Regions from separate parts of the Homo sapiens genome. Here region 1 is linked to region 2. The links come from fine-mapping of genetic effects on gene expression. A gene starts in region 2. The other region holds a variant in brackets. All regions are shown on one strand. Distances are from middle to middle. Region 1 overlaps CLRN1-AS1 (CLRN1 antisense RNA 1). Region 2 holds the start of P2RY14 (purinergic receptor P2Y14).

What was found.
Region 1: its variant is fine-mapped to the expression of P2RY14 in whole blood (TOPMed, PIP 0.98).

The regions. Positions count from the first base shown.
Region 1 is chr3:150,993,035-150,995,963 of GRCh38, forward strand. All of the region lies in intron 1 of CLRN1-AS1 (CLRN1 antisense RNA 1), which reads left to right. Among named protein-coding and RNA genes, the nearest start is that of CLRN1, 22 kb to the left of the region's middle. The variant A/G (reference allele first, on the strand shown) is at 1,625.
Region 2 is chr3:151,277,198-151,280,041 of GRCh38, forward strand. P2RY14 (purinergic receptor P2Y14) reads right to left here and starts at 1,345. Exons shown (of 3, transcript NM_014879.4): 1 at 1,090-1,345. The region is part of intron 16 of MED12L (mediator complex subunit 12L); the gene reads left to right.

The DNA of each region.
Region 1 (2,929 bases), 280 kb before region 2:
TGCAGCATCTTCATGAGGAGTAGATTCCACCTCAAGAAACCACTTTCCTTGCCCATTCATAAGAAGCAACTACTCATCCCATCCTTAAAGTTTTATCAGGAGATTGCAGCAATTCAGCTGCATCTTCAGGCTCTACTTCTAATTCTAGCTTTCTTGCTGTTTTCATCACATCTGCAGTTATTTCCTCCATGAAAGTCTTGAACCTCTCAAAGTCATCCATGAGGTTGGGAATCAACTTCTTCCAAACTTCTATATTAATATTTTGACCCCCTCCCATGAATCATGAATGTTTTTAATGGAATCTAGAATGGCAATTCCTTTCCAGAAGGGTTTCAATTTTCTTTGCCCACATCCATCAGAGGAATCACTGTGGCAGCTATCGCCTTATGAAATATTTTTCTTAAATAGTATGACTTGAAAGTCAAAATTACTCCTTGATCTATGGGTGGCAGAATGGATACTGTGTTAGCAGGCATGAGAACATTCATCTCCTCTACATCTCTATCAGAGCTCTTGGATGACTAGGTCCATTACAAATGAGCAGTAGTATTTTGAAAGCTTTTTTTCTGAGCAGTAGGTCTGAACAGTGGGCTTAAAATATTCAGTAAACCATGCAGTAAACAGATGTGCTCTCATCCTGGCTTTGTTGTTCCATTTATAGAGCACAGGAAGACTGGATTTTGCATAATTCTTAAGGGCCTTAGGATTTTCAAAATGGTAAATGAGCACAAGCTTCAACTTAAAGTCACCAGCTACGTTAGCCCTTTATAAAAGAGACGGCCTGCCCTTTGAAGAGAAGCTTTTTTTTTTTTTTTTTTTTTTTAGATGGAGTCTCACTCTTGCTCAGGCTGGAGTGCAGTGTCGTGATCTCATCTCACTGCAATCTCTGCCTCCCAGGTTCAAGTGATTCTCCTGCCTCAGCCTCCCTGAGTAGCTGGGATTACAGGTGCATGCCACCATGCCCGGCTAATTTTTTGTATTTTTAGTAGAGATGGGGTTTCACCATGTTGGCCAGGCTTGTCTCAAGCTCCTGACCTCAAGTGGTCCACCTGCCTCAGCCTCGCAAAATGTTAGGATTACAGGAATGTGCTACCACCCCTGGCCTGCCCTTTGAAACTTTGAAGCCAGGCCTTGACTTCTCCTCTCTAGCTATGAAAGCCCTACATGGCATTTTTTTTTTCCAACAGAAGGCTGTTTCATTTTCACTAAAAGTCTGTTATTCAGTTTAGTTACCTTCATCAATGATTGTAGTTAGATCTTCTGGATAACTTGCTGTAGCTTCCACATTAGCACTTCCTGCTTCACATTGCACTTTTATGTTCTAGAAATGGCTTCTTTCCTTAAACCTCATGAACCAGCCTCTGCTAGCTTTCAGCTTTTCTTCTGCAACTTCCTCACCTCTCTCAGCTTTTATAGAATTAAATAGAGTTAGGATTTTGCTCTGGATTAGGTTTTGGCTTAAAGGGAATATTGTGGCTGGTTTGATCTTCTATCCAGACCACTAAACAGCAATAAGACTGTTTCACTTTCTTATCATTTGTGTGTGAGCACATGTTGTTGGAAAAATGGCACCAATAGGCTTTCTCAAGGCAAGGTTGCCACAAGCCTTCAATTTGTAAACAAC[A/G]AAATATCAGTGAAGCACAACAAAGCAAAGCACAATAAAATGAGGCATGCCTGTACTTTTTTTTAATGTAGCCAGCCCCAACATTTTCCATATGTAGTAAAAGAACATTCTCTATGTTCATGAATGCTTATGACAAATGAATGATAGAATGAATGAATAAATGAATGCAAAGAGCTCAGACTGGAAAGTAGCAGATATGTGATCTAGTTTTATTTCTGATACTCTGACTGGTTCTCTTTTTTCTCTCATCTTAATTGAACACTGGACATTCCATTTGGCTCTTAAATTATGTAACTTAAATATAATAAATTTTCAGCCAATGATTTCATTAGATACCTGGCTGTAACTCCAGAAGACCTATGAAGAGCCCTAGAGGCCAGCTCCACCTTGGTTCCTCTAATAGTTTCTTTTGCTCCATCGTTTTCTTCAACTTAGCATCTGTGTCACCTTGAACAAGTTGCTTAACTTCTCTACACCTTAATTTCTTCAGCTGCAACATGAGATTCATGATGTGGCTACTTCATAGAGTAGCAGTGAGGATTCGATCAGATAATGTATGTAAAGTGCTTAGAACAATGCCTACGATACTAAACACATAATAAATGTTTAATAAATATTGATGATGGTGATGATGTTTCCTTGATGTTTTTTAGGGCACTTTTCTGCATAGGAGGAAAGTAAACTCTGAGGCTTCCTGTATTCTGTAATGATTAATAAAGTACTGTATCATTGTGTCATATAGAGCTATACAGGCATCGACAAATTCATTTGTTTGCAATGAATTAGACTTCAAAGACGGTGCAATGAACGAAGGCAATTTAAAGGATAGTTTGCGCCCTTTGGAAATGTAGATATTTTAACAAATAGGAACATATGAGTCATATAAACCTTAGAGTGAATGAATTAACTAGCTTTTTTCCTCAAAGCAGTGTTGATGGGAGGAAAAGAATTGGTGCTAAGAGCCTGAGGGGTGGTGGAAAAGGAAGGAAGAGTAATCTGCAAGACTGTCAGGTGTGAAGGGTGTGGGGACTGCAGCAATTCTTGCAAGGTCAGCAGAGTGGGCCAACTTTTTCAGTTGCTGGCTGACCTCAGCCAGGGATTAGGTTCTGTTCAAGGGCAACATTGCTGCAATATCAAGGGGCCATGCTCTGGTTGCTGAAAGCTCATGCCCAGGACTGCTGGCCTGGGTTCTGGCTGTCTGACCATTTACTCTTATTTTCTTTTTATATCTGTCATATTTTCTCAGTCAGCTAGGATTTTTGGTTGCAAGTAACAGAAACGCCAACCTAAACTGACTTAGGCATG
Region 2 (2,844 bases):
CTGGCCTCCTTGTTTTTTTTTTTTCCAGACATGACAATATAGAGTTCATTCATATATACCAATGTGTTAATTGTGTGCACACAATTGTATGCATGTTTGTATATATAGTATTCATAAATTTTACCGAAATATAAAATTCATTGCATGTTTACAAATCATAAAATATGCCATTTTGGTATTTTCCGAGTGCATTGTTTTCTTTTTAACTTAATGGCTAGGTTTTTTTTTAGTGCTAAAACTGATTATCAAGTTTGTATGTTTTAGAAAGATGAATATACAAACTATTTATTTTTTTACTAGTGTGATCTTTGATTCATTTTCTCCGTAGGATTGATTGTCCTTGGTTAACAAAGTATATGTAGACAAGATGGATTGCATGGGCTTGGTTGAATAAGCTGACATTGTGGGTCTGTGCTAATTCTCCTGAATGTAATTTAATTTATAATGTTTAAAGAATTGTAAGTAATTTAGCTGATTAGTCATAGACTATAAATAAGTAGCATATGAACTCAAATATTTGCTATGCCTAGGACAGATATTTCTGTGATTTACAATTTAAAGGCATTTTATTTTAGTAGGTGTTAATGGGGTTAACTTATCCTAATAATGACAAAGATAAAAACTTTTACCTATATAAGTGTATGTACAAGTAAATGCAACTATATATCTGTACACATATGCAATTGCAAACAAAGACATACTGACCTAAGTATTATGCTAATCGATTTTGTAGTTTTGAGAAGCAATTTTAATACACATTTACGAGCTTTTGAAATGTTTGTCCTGGATGAATACCTTTTAAACATTTTCCTTGATATCTCTTCATCACAGATATATTTTGACAGCCACGATTGGAAATCCTAAATCATAAATGATAATATTTCAGTATTGGATCCCCATATTAGCATGGGGAAATATATTAATATACCAATTATAGTTGTCAAACAAAAAGTAACCTACTGAGAAAAATGTGAGTGGCAATGGTTCAGTGTTCCTCAGCTTTGTTGCTGCCCAGCTCAGAAATCTTTTCTGTTCCCATGCACCATTCACATACATGCAAGTCATTTCATGGAAAAGCTGTTTTCTTACCTGCGTCTAGGCCTTCATCTGTGAGAGTCATGCTTCACTCATTTTGAAATACCTCTCATTGTAGGCTCCAAGGTAACACTGTTACAGAGTTCTTGCTCATCTTCAACTACGGATGAAAATCAGGAACTTGACAGAAACCACAAGATAGTGGGTCCCTCTGCTGCTGTTGTCAGATAGAATTTATTGAAGACTGGGACGTGGAAACAAAGAGGAAGGAAGAGACGTTTTAATCTCTGTGGGTGTTAGGCTGACTTCTGAGCTAGTTCCTTTCCTCCAGTAATGCAAAAACAGTCCTGCTTTCTTATTTCTCCTCCTACTTTTCCCCACATCCCTACATCATCTGATGCACAGCCAGGCAAAAACCTGTTTTCTTTTCTAACCTTTGCCATTGTCAAATTCAACATGTGGTATGAGGTGGAGAACTGATGTGTAAGATATGGTTCTTTCTGAAGCACCCTCAGAAAATTGTCAGCAGCTTCACAGTATAACGTGCAGAGATGGGTAGTTGGAGCTACCTGGAAATGCGGAATTAACAGAATAAAGAAGTATTTTGACACCAATGTCGACATATTCTAGATAAGAGGTGTTGCATTGTCATTTTTCCCACATTAATTTTCCCATATTTGAACATTACTGATAAATAGATCACAAGTAGGACTTCAGATAAACTCCTCGTGTGTTAACATTTTGGTGTTTGTGCTGTGTTACTATTTTGAAAGTCTTCATATTTTTAGTTCCTTTCAGGCTCTGTAATATAATTGGTGATGTCCTGCAGTGCTCCACTGTCTTTCCCATTGACTATTAGTGCCATTAGATTTGGAAGTTTTCAGAAGATGGCTACAAAGTCCTCTTCAAAGTGTATAACTCAGAACCAGAAAGAAAGAAGACAAGGGGCTGAAAAGCTTACTTTATAAGGTTCCTGCATTTTAAGTGTATTTACTTAGGCTGTTCCATTGCCAAATTATGGGTAACAACTAGTAAAGTTCAGCTTGCCTTAAAAACATAGCTATACATTTAGTTATAATAATTATAACTGGCTTATGACATGCCCGTTACTATTCTAGTTGCTTTATATGTACTTGCTACGTAGGAGGCAGTGTTCTGGACATTGGAGATGGAGTAGTGACTGACACATACCCAAACAGTTATTTCCCTCATGAAGAGTATTTTCTTACTTTCTGTCTCACAGACTTGCTAGTCACTGTTGATCCTTGGCAAAGACCTGTGAGACACAGAGCTTGTTTAGAGAAGTTCGCCATTTCTCCCTGCCAGAGGGACTCTTCTTCAGACCCCCAGCGGGCCCCAATAGTCCTCACTGATGCTTTGATTGAGGGGCTAAGAATACTGATGTGCATAGAGAGGCTTGTTAGCTTCAGCTGCAGTGAGATCTGGTAGGTAAATAAACTTAAGGACAAGTGGATGTGAGGAGGAGCCGCTAGAGCCTGGTTATTACCAGGGCACATTGCAGAGTCCTCCAGATGTAAACATTTTGCTGATTAAATTGATGATTTGGCAGGAACCGTATCTCTAAGGTGCGACTCTCAAGACTTCCCTGATTTATTGCAGGAGATGCTGTTTACTCTGACAGTCTCAAAAACACCCATTAATTGTTCCGGGTCCCTTTTGTGCTTCTTGACTTCCCCGTGGGGTGTTTCACATAGATGTTATTGAGTATGACTGGGGAGAACATGATAATTTGTTGCTTCTTGACTTCCCCGTGGGGTGTTTCACATAGATGTTATTGAGTATGACTGG